Linked DNA regions of Homo sapiens. Changing the gene in region 1 together with any one later gene gives a genetic interaction. Each region holds a gene or a part of one and is shown in the gene's direction. Other genes may lie near its edges.

Region 1 (5,601 bases):
ATTTGGTGGAACCCATTCAATTCCTTACAAATATATTTTTTGAGCATCTGCCATCCTTCAGATGTCGTATTGAGCACCATTCATGAATATGGACATACATAAAACATCATCCCTGCTCTCAGCATACTTAATTCAACCCAGAAAGCAGGAGGAACCAGGCCCACGCACCGTCATCACATGCATCTCACCAGTGCTATGCAATAGGTTGATCATAGGAAAGTGCCCAAATTTGACCATTTTTGAGGTAATTTCATATATTTCCCAAAATGTGTTCTCTCAAACCCTATTGTAGCCAGAAACCTCTGAGAAAAAGAGTACCACGGTCAGATGAGTTTGGGAATGTCATTGAATTCTCTCTCCTTCCTCAGTTACATGTTCATTAAAATATTAAGGGTTTGGCAAACTCCAGGGCTGGGCGCGGTGACTCACGCCTGTAATCCCAGCACTTTGGGAGGCCAAGGCAGGCGAATCACGAGGTCCGGAGATCGAGACCATCCTGGTCAACATGGTGAAACCCCGTCTCTACTAAAATACAAAAATCAGCCAGGCATGGTGGTGAGTGCCTGTAATCCCAGCTACTCGGGAGGCTGAGGCAGGGGAATTGCTTAACCGTGGGAGGCGGAGGTTGCAGTGAGCTGAGATGGCTCCACTGCACTCCAGCCTGGTGTTAGAGCAAGACTCCATCTCAAAAAAAAAAAAAAAAAAAAAAAAAAGGGTTTGGCAAACTCCTAAAGGAAAGAAGCCTGTTGAACTTTGTTTAAACAAGCATTATTTGCTGATACCACTTTTCTGTTGTTGGCCTATATCATTATACCTGTTCACATCATCCAGTGTTCCTTTCCCCATGGCACATTTGAGAAATGGTACATAACTGTATTGTCTCATCCTAACCGTTAATCACTTTCCCAAACATGAATATTTTCCAGGCTGAGCACGGTAGCTCATGCTTGTAATCCCAACACTTTGGGAGACCAAGATGGGAGGATCACTTGAGCCCAGGAGTTTATGAGACCAGCCTGGGCAACACAGGGAGACCCCATCTCTACAAAAAAATTAGAAAATTAGCTGGGCATGGTGGCATGCACCTGTAGTCCCGGCTACTTGGGAGGCTGAGATGGGAGGATCGCTTGAGCCCAGGAGCTTGAGGCTGCAGTGAGCTGTGATCGCACCACTGCACTCTAGCCTGGGTGACAGTGAGACTCTGTCTCTGAAAAAATATATATTTTTTTAATTTTTAATTAATGTGATTTACAAGCTATTAATCTTGGTATCATCTTGTTTAATTTCATTATTCAAGATTGATCAAAAAGTTCAGGAAGATTTATTTCAAAAATAACACTAACAGCATAATATAATAGTATCTTGTGTTTACATAAAGAACTAAAATCGGGGCTGGGCACAGTGGCTCACACCTGTAATCCCAGCACTTTGGGAGGCTGAGGCCGGCGGATCACGAGGTCAGGAGTTCGAGACCAGCCTGGCCAATATGGTGAAACCCCATCTCTACTAAAAATATAAAAAATTAGCTGGGTGTGGTGGCACGTGCCAGTAATCCCAGCTACTTGGGAAGCTGAGGCAGGAGAATCGCTTGAACTCGGGAGGTGGAGGTTGCAGTGAGCCGAGATCACGCCATTGCACTCCAGCCTGGGTGACAGAGTGAGACTCCCCGTCTCAAAAAAAAAAAACAAAAAAAAACAAAAACTTAAAATCAATCTGTTTCTAATTCCTCCAGACTTAACACAGTATTAGCCATTTGTGCCATGGTTTGATTTCTCAAAGAATCAGATTTTAGAGCCAAAGGACTCTAGAAGCTCACACGGCTAAAGTTATAAGGTGGTCTCATATTTGTTTTTTTAGGTGGAGCAGCTCACATAAATAGAAAAGAAGTCACAGAATCCAAATTGCTGCTGCTAGGAGAGGGTGAGGGTGCTGGAGCCCAACACCCATGCATTTGGGTATAGCATCCATCCCACCAGAATTACTGCTTCCCTTTAAAACAGTTGTGGAAAGTAGGGCTCAACTCAGAGAAAGTTCCATAGGCCTTCTAGCCATCTTCGAGTGAGTGTCTAGAAATTGCTCTCAGATTTGCCTTTTATAAATTCTTTAAAAATAAATCTTATTTGATTTATATGGTTCTGTAATCACCTGGATTATCAAAGCTCTTCCTTCATGCACTTTATAATATAAACTTTTGATTTACAAATGAGTTGTTTTCTCTCTAGTTTAGATTCCTTGGCATTGGTTGATCAGTCCCAGGGCTCTGGTGTCTTCATAATTTTACAAATTGTCTGAGTTGGGTGGGCTCTCAGTGGTCATGTAGTACCAATAGCCAGTCAGTGCCTGAGTCACTGCACCTGCAGCTCCTCTGAAAGGGTCTTCCTGCTTTTGCATGGACCTCAGTGGCAGGGAAAGCCACATCCTCCTTAGCATTCTCTGACTTGTGTTCAGTAGAAGCCGGCCTCCCTGTGGCTTCTACTCTTGATTCTAGTTCGACTTTCAGAACCTTCTGTCTAATTTTGCCTTACATATTTGAGGGCAGCTTCCAGGTCTTCTCTGCTTGCTTATTGAGCCCCTTCATCATCCCTGTTTGTGCTCATCAGTTACCTTTATCCTCTTTTAGAAGCAAATGTGCAGCTGGGCGCAGTGGCTCATGCCTGTAATCCCAGCTACTCAGGAGGCTGAGGCAGGAAGATTGCTTGAGGCTGGGAGTTCGAGACCAGCCTAAGCAACATAGCAAGACCCTCTTAAAAGAAAAAATTAAATTAAATTAATAAAATATAAAAGAGGCCACGCACAGTGGCTCACGCCTGTAATCCCAGCACTTTGGGAGTCCAAGGCTGGTGGCTCACTTAAGGCCGGGTGTTCAAGACCAGCCTTGCCAATATGGTGAAACCTCATCTCTACTAAAAGTACAAAAAGTAGCCGAGCATTGTGGCAGACTCCTGTAATCCTAGCTACTTGGGCAGCTGAGGCAGGAGAATTGCTTGAACCCGGGAAGTGGAGGTTGCAGTGAGAAGAGATTGTACCACTGCACTCCAGCCTGGGTGACAGAGCGAGGCTCTTTCTCAAAAGAAAGAAAGAAAGAAAGATAGATAGATAGAGGCTCTTTCTCAAAAGAAAGAAAGAAAGAAAGAAAGATAGATAGATAGATAGATAGATAGATAGACAGACAGACAGACAGACAGACAGATAGATAGAAGCAAACTCTGTATACCAAGTGTGGTCTAATGAATCCAGAAGAGGACTGTTCTACCTTATTTTCTGGATATTGTTCTTCAGTGTGCATCCTCATTACTGAGCCTCAAATTGAAAAATACACCAGCTAAACAAGTTCCTTTTTCAGAGTTTTTACTGGAATCAGAATTCCTTATCTGATTCTTGTGCAGTTGACTACTTGGGCCTTAACACTTAGCCTTGTGAATTGTACTTTCGTTAATCTTGGCCCTTTATTCTACCCTGATGAGCTCTTTTGTAATCTTTATTTTGTCGGCCAGTATATTTTCTATTTTTCGCAGATACATCTTTTTTCTAAATCACAATAAAATATCATGCACAGTAAGAACAAAGATAGTGTCACACAAGCAGAGGTAGTTGTAGATGACATTAAGATCGACTTATCAGCAGTGGTCAGGAAAACCAACCATTTTTCTGATTTTAGTTCCTATTGTTCTGACTTGCCCACAAGGAGCCTCATACTTCCTACAGAGTTCCAGGGACTGGAGTATTCAGTGCTACCATTGCCCAGTGTTTCTATAATCTGTTTCAGAAAGCAACATAGCAAGCCATCTGCACGTGCAACATCCAAACTTGGCAGCCCAGACACAGTTTCTCCTAGAAATCGCCAAAAATTAGCAAAAGAGAAGTTACCTACCAGCGAAAAAGTTAGTAACTCTCCCCCATTAGGAAGGTAAGTCCCTGCTTACACTTCAAGCCATTTTTAACCCCCTAAGACTATTTTTGGTACAATAATGCTTTCTTCCTAATTTCCTTTAAGATTTTGTCTCACCAAATAACTGTTTTTGGGGATCATTGGTTTCCAAGAAGAACAGGAAGGGCTGCAGAAGGTGTCTGTGTGGCCTCACCAGTCTGGCCTTGCCGCAGTGGACTGCCACACAGGCTTGTCCTTGACACCTGTGAGCCTTATCTGCCTTCTCCCATCCACCAAGACCAAAGGCAAGGCAGTGTGGTAAAGCATTTAACAGCCCAGAATCATTTCTGTTTTAGCTAGAGCATTGGAGAGGTGATGAGGTGATAAAGCTTCCTCTTTCAGGCACGGCCCCTGCCAGCTTACACCTTTCACTGCAGCCTTACTGGTCTTACTGCTTCCCAGAGGTGGTCCTGAGCCTTCCTTTCTTGCCTTTGCTTGAGCCAGTGAGGAGTGTCCTCACCACCAGCACCCCTAGTAAGTCAGATCCTTTCCGTCCCGCTTCAGCCCATTTTCATCTCTTCTTGCTGCACTTCTGGTCAGTACTGGGCACTTGAGATGCCACATAGCATTGGTTTGGTATATTCCTTTTATTTACCCCTCTGAGCTCTAGGTTTCTTTCTTGAGATAGGAATTTGTCATACTTTCTATACATTATCATATTCAAAAATAAAAGACTCTTCACTGTACACAAAAACTGTTTTGACCTCTTACCACATTTTCATCTTCACAGCATACTTGTATGTATGTGCTGTTTTCCGCACATTCTAGAAACGAAAGCAAACTATAGTGCCAGGCAGTTTCACATACATGCTCTCATTTAACCCTCAGTGAGTGAATTGTAATAGTTACTCTTATTTTATATGTGAGGGAAAGAATCTCAGGAAGGTTTCCATGCATACTACTCAAAATTGAACATGCAGTCAAATCACTTGAGGCTGTTGGTAAAATGCAGATCCTGGGTCTGTAAGTCTAGGCTGGGGCCTGAGAGTTGGCATTTCCAACAAGCTCCTCAGTGACCAATGCCCCTCCTCACAGACCACATTCTGGGTGGACTAGAAGGGCCTGGATAAACTACGAAGCTCACATGGCTGGGGAGAAGCAGCCTGACTCAGAGCTTCTGTTGGCTGCCACTTGGCCCCCAGCACAATACTGCGCACGGCACCTTTACTGAAGAGGTGTTCATTGAGTGGCTGGTGGCTTTCCATGGAAACAGTTTGAAATGGATTATCAACAAACACATTTTCAGTCATTGTCAACACATGTCAAAACCACATCATCTGCAACAATTTTTGACTCAGTTTATTTACTTTTGCTGTCAAACAAGAAACGGAAGACGTGTCTTCATATCACTAAGAGTCCCATTTCTCCATCTCCTGCAATTTTGGTTTTCCAACTCTTTGATTCATTGACAGGACATTTACTGCCCGCTTGCCATGTGTTGGGCATTGCACTAGGCACTGGAGTTAGAAAAATGAATAAATCTCAGCAGCTGCCCTAGAGAATCATCGTGTCTAATGGGGGAGATATATGTGTATAAGACTTTCAAACTTTTTTGGCAACAACCCACTATAAGAATATTTTGCAATACAGCTGGTGCTCACATTCCTGCTGCTGTAACTGAAACAAAATTTCATGAGTCAAATTTAATAGATGTGATATGAGTGGTATTTTCT
Region 2 (5,601 bases), on another chromosome or scaffold:
TCTGGATCTTAGCTGTTGTCATTCTGTTCATCTGGAGGGCCCTCAGTCCCATCTTTGCCATTTTAAGATCTCACTATTCAAAACCAAATACACATGCAGCATCCTTCATCCTTCCCTGATCTGGGCTGAGGTAACCTCCTGTTGCTTCTCACTTGCACCTGCTTTGGACCACATGCTGATTTATTTAGTAGATTGTAGGCCTTTGGTATTCACCAGAGATATTTGAGAGTGTACAAATTAGCAAATGCCACTCTAACAAATGATTTCCCATGTGTTGTTTAAAATGTAAATGAAAACTGGGATTCTTTTAGACCCTTAAGAAAGTTGTGTTGGAATATGACCATTTTGTATTCACCCAGGCTCGTTTGCTAGCTAAGTGATTGGCTTTTGCATACTAGCCTTCAGAGCGGCTAATTCACATCCAGACCTCAGAAACAGATGCCTCCATTGTGGTACTCTCAGGGCATTTGTAAATCAGAGGGAAGTTAGCATCTGCTTTGTCTACCCATCTCTTTTTCACTAGAAGGCAAAACCTGAGAGCTATTTAATATTCCCACACCTCACATCCTCTATGAGGTGAGTGCTCAGTAAACTTCTGCCAAGTGAATTTACCAGCATTTCCCAATATTAATCTTCCTCACTTTGGTCCAAAAGGAGGAGGAAATTTTAGGAAAATCATTATCTATAGAAATAAACAGACTTTGTGGCATTAAGTGACTTGAATGTAAAATGATTTGGTAAGTAGCAGCTGGTTGCATGCATATTTAAAATGAGCAGCTAACTTCTCTCTTCAAGATGTGTGCACCTCCAACTAAGTGCTGAATGATGAGGCTGGATGTTTAAGCAGGACCACGTTGCAAATTGTCTTATGGGCTATGCTAGAGTTCTCACTTATACTTAAAGCTTTGGGGAACCGCTGAAAGTTTTTTTTTTTTTTTTTTTTTGAGACGGAGTCTCGCTCTGTCGCCCAGGCCGGACTGCGGACTGCAGTGGCGCAATCTCGGCTCACTGCAAGCTCCGCTTCCCGGGTTCACGCCATTCTCCTGCCTCAGCCTCCCGAGTAGCTGGGACTACAGGCGCCCACCACCGCGCCCGGCTAATTTTTTGTATTTTTAGTAGAGACGGGGTTTCACCTTGTTAGCCAGGATGGTCTCGATCTCCTGACCTCATGATCCACCTGCCTCGGCCTCCCAAAGTGCTGGGATTACAGGCGTGAGCCACCACGCCTGGCCCCGCTGAAAGTTTTTAAGTGAAATGATGGCAAAGATCAGTGCCAGTAGAGCAGAGAAAGTTTTGGAGCATCCAGGAGAGAGAGAGAAGGGCAGAGAGATGGGTAAGGCTATTGGGCACGGGTAGTATGGAAGCATAAGCTGAGTGACGTCAGTGTGTAGGAGAATTGAGAGGTAATGAGTAATTCAAGTGATAGTGAATAATTGAGTAATTCAGAATTATTAGTGAATAATTCTCAAGTCAAAGAATTGAGAGATAATGAATAAAGGTATATGTGTATATACCCATGTACATATAAATAAATAATTTAAGGAACTCAGAGTACAGGAACTAAAGGGAAAAACAATGAAATGTCTTCCAGATTCTAGCCTCATCTACTGAATAAGTGAAGATAGCTTTTTTTTTTTGCTTTTTTTTTTTTTAAAAGACAGGGTCTTGCACTGTCGCCCAAGCCGAAGTGCAGTGGTGCAATCATAATTCACTGCAGCCTTATACTCCCAGGCAGGAGCGATCCTCCCACCTCAGCCTCCTGAGTAGTAGAGACTACAGGTGCACACCACCACACCTGGCTAATTTTTAAATTTTTTGTAGAGATAGAGTTTCGCCATGTTGCCCAAGCTGGTCTCGAACTCCTGGGCTCAAGCGATTCTCCCATCTTGGCCTCCCAAAGTTCTAGGATTAAGGGTGTGAGCCACTGTGCCTGGCCGATACCATTCTAATTAAGAAGGAAAACAAGGGAGGAGGAACAGGTTTAGGGTTGACAAGTTCAGTTGGGGACCTGTCGAGTTTGAGGTGTGTGTGGTACATCCTGGATAAGAGTTCATTAGCATGTAGCCATGAGTCAGAATGACCTTAAGGAGATTGTACAGCATGAGATGAGGGCCAAAAAGACAAAATCATAGGGAATGTCAAAATCAAGGTAGAAGATGAAGAGAGCAAAAAAGAGACCAAGAGAGGTCAGAGAGATGGGAGGAAAAGATAGACTCCCTGCTTCCTTCTGGAAAGTGGCAAGTGCTTAGAGAGAGATTGTGTAGTCTTGGTGATATGGTTTGGCTGTGTCCCCACCCAAATCTCATCTTGAATTGTAGCTCCCATAATTCCCACATGTCGTCGGAGGGACTTGGTGGGAGGTAATTGAATCATGGGGACAGGTCTTTCACATGCTGTTCTTGTGATCATAAGTCTCATGAGATCTGATGGATTTATAAAGGAGAGTTTCCTTGCACACGCCCTCTTTACCTGTCACCATGTAAGATATAACTTTGCTCCTCCTTCACCTTCCGCCATGATTGTGAAGCCTCCCCAGCCATGTAGAACTGTGAGTCAATTAAACCTCTTTTATAAATTACCCAATTTCAGGTATATCTTTATTGGCAGCGTGAGAATAGATTAATACACTTGGACAGGTTACTTGAGCTTCTCTGAACCTTTGTTTCCTCATCTGCAAAAAGGGAGTAATGATAGTACCTACCCATGGGGTGTCGTGAGGATTAAATTAATAAATATGTGTAAAGTACTTAAAACAGTCCTGGCACATAGTAAATGCTATATACATGTTTCATATTATTATTCTTTTTATTATCAAGAAATAAGGAACATCCATGGGAATTAGTATCCAACCGGTCATTAGTGACCTATGCTAGGGGCATTTCAGTGGAGTGGTGGGGGTAGAAGCCAGACTACAGTTGGTTAGAGAATGAATATGATACAAGAAAAGCAAACAGATAATTCAACTTATTAAAAGATTGCCTGTGAAGAAAAGGAAAGAGCAACATCAGTATCTGGCAAGGTGTGTGGTAGTGGTGATGGTGAGGGGTGTTGTGTGTCTTTGGGTCATGGGGAAAACTTAAGCATGGTTAAAATTGCTGAGAGGAGTGAGTAGAAGGGGAAGGGTCAAAGAGAAGCAGGAAGAATAGTTGATGGCTCAAGGTCCCATGGAAGGTAGGATGATTCAGATCCCAGGTGGAGGGATTAACTTAAGTGAAGAAGGACCCATCTTACACAAGCATGAAAATGAAGGAGATGAAGATAGGTAGTGATGCACATGAGTGTGTAAATGGGGACAGATATTTGAGGGATTTCCTGTCTGCTGGCCTGTTTTCTCTGGGAAACAGGGTAAATGGTTTGCTGAGCGCCAGTAGACAAGTGGGGCTTTAGGAGAGCAGTGAAGGTTTGATTTAATTGCTGTGAAGAATGGGTGAGAGCCAACAGAGACTTGTGGAAGATGGTTGCAGGGGGTGCTATGGGTCCAGCTGACATATATTGGCAATGGATGACACAATCAAATGACCTCTTCCAGTAGTACTGTAGCTGACAGGTGAGCACAGAGCACGGGGCTGTTGGGGTTTTGCTTTGTGGGGTGACCATTAGTTTTGTGGCGAAGGAGTAGCAGAAGGATAGAATCTGATACATCAGGTCCGGAGGTTTTGATGAAGCTGCCAAATGGGTCTCTGGGGAGAAGGAAGTAAAAGTACTATAAGGGAGAAAGTTGTAGTTGGATAAGAGAATAATCAAGTTTAAGATTTAAGAGGCAGAAAGTTTTTTCTGATAATGCCAAGGTCCACAGACTGAACAGGACTGCAGGCATGTGGCTAAAGGGGAATAGAGGCAAAGGCATTGGTGTCTAGGAGCTGCAGGACTAGGTGGACAGTGAGTGGTAGAAGTGGAGGGAACCTAGATGGTGCCAGGAGGAAGACTGTGTGAGAAGTGCTGTTTCTTTTTCTTTTTCTTTCTTTCTTTCTTTTTTTTTTTTGAGACGGAGTTTCACTCTTGTTGCCCCTGTTGGAGTGCAGTGGTGCAATCTCGGCTCACTGCAACCTCCACCTCCCAGGTTCAAGCGATTCTCCTGCCTCAGCCTCCAGAGTAGCTGAGATTACAGGCATGCACCACCACACCCAGCTAATTTTTGTATTTTTTTTAGTAGAGATGGGGTTTCACCACGTTGGTCAGGCTGGTCTCAAACTCCTGACCTCAGGTAATCTACCCGCCTCAGCCTCCCAAAGTGTTGGGATTACAGGTGTGAGCCACCACTCCCGCCCCAGGAGTGCCATTTCTGAGGGAATATGTTACATTGACCAGGGAGTGATCAGTGAGGGGCCGAGAGAGATGTGGGTTGGTGGCCCAGGCTCAGCAGCCTACATCTCTTCATGGGGTCTTTAGGCTAACATAGGATGATGGAGTATCTGTGTATTTCGCCATAGACAGATTTTAGTAGTTGCAACAGAGACTGTATGGCTTACAAAATCTAAAATATTTACCTGTAAAGGTAAAGAAATGAAACAAAACCGTTAGATTATTATAAAACAGAGTGACAGCTTAAATTTGTCAGTGTATAAGAATTTTGTGTATACTTGAAAAACACTGGCCTGGCAACTTAGTAGAAGATAAATTTGAGTTGTAGTGTTTCTGTAGTTGAGAATGAGTGAATGGAAACCTGTAGAAGCAAAGCAGTTAGGAGAAAATCATCTAGAGAAATGTTAGCCTTGAGAGTGAGTTCCACAACCACTTAGCTGTAGTGGTTGAAGGAGGAAAGAATCCTACCTCCAAATTACAACTTTACAAGAAACAGAACTACTAACCTTGAGAAACCATTATTTATGCCATTTATCAGCCCAAACTGAAAATTTAGTGCTCAAAGCTGGCACTATTGTATAACACAAGTTGCAGCATAAATTGTTAAAACCCTGTTGAAGGGCCGGGCATGGTGGCTCATGCCTGTAATCCCAGCACTTTGGGAGGCCGAGGTGGGAGGATCATGAGGTCAGGAGATCAAGATTATCCTGGCCAACATGGTGAAACACTGTCTCTACTAAAAATACAGAAATTAGCTGGGAATGGTGGCACATGCCTGTAATCCCAGCTACTCGGGAGGCTGAGGCAGGAGAATCGCTTGAACCCAGGAATCAGAGGTTACAGTGAGGTGAGATCGCGCCACTGTACTCCAGCCTGGTGACAGAGCGAGACTCCGTCTCAAAACAAAACAAACAAAAAAACCTTGTTGAAAATCATTCATTCATTGAAGAAGTATCTATTAATTACCTTCTCTGTGTCAAGTGTTTGGTAACTGAGCAAATATATAGCTTTTTTAGGAAGCAGTTTAGAACACAGTTTGTTAGTCTTGAAAGTATTCACAAACATTTCCATTTTTGAGAATTTTTCTTTCTTTTTTTTTTTTTGAGACAGAGTTTCACTCTTGTTGCCCAGGCTGGAGTGCCGTGGTGCGATCTCGGCTCACTGTAAGCCCCGCTTTCTGGTTTCAAGCGATTCTCCTGCCTCAGCCTCCTGAGTAGCTGGGATTACAGGCACCTGCCACCACGCCCGGCTAATTTTTGTATTTTTAGTAGAGACAGGGTTTCACCATGTTGGCCAGGC

Evidence for each region. Genes that interact genetically often act in the same process or in processes that back each other up.
Region 2: changes in BOD1L1 (region 1) and PDCD7 together harm fitness more than expected from each alone (negative genetic interaction), as found in Homo sapiens cells (one large-scale study listed by BioGRID).

The regions. Positions count from the first base shown.
Region 1 is NC_000004.12:13,571,008-13,576,608, reverse strand, and holds part of BOD1L1 (biorientation of chromosomes in cell division protein 1-like 1), read left to right. Parts: intron 1-3,766; coding exon of another isoform or gene 3,767-3,907; intron 3,908-5,601. UniProt on the Homo sapiens protein: Component of the fork protection machinery required to protect stalled/damaged replication forks from uncontrolled DNA2-dependent resection.
Region 2 is NC_000015.10:65,122,807-65,128,407, reverse strand, and holds part of PDCD7 (programmed cell death protein 7), read left to right. Parts: intron 1-5,601. UniProt on the Homo sapiens protein: Promotes apoptosis when overexpressed.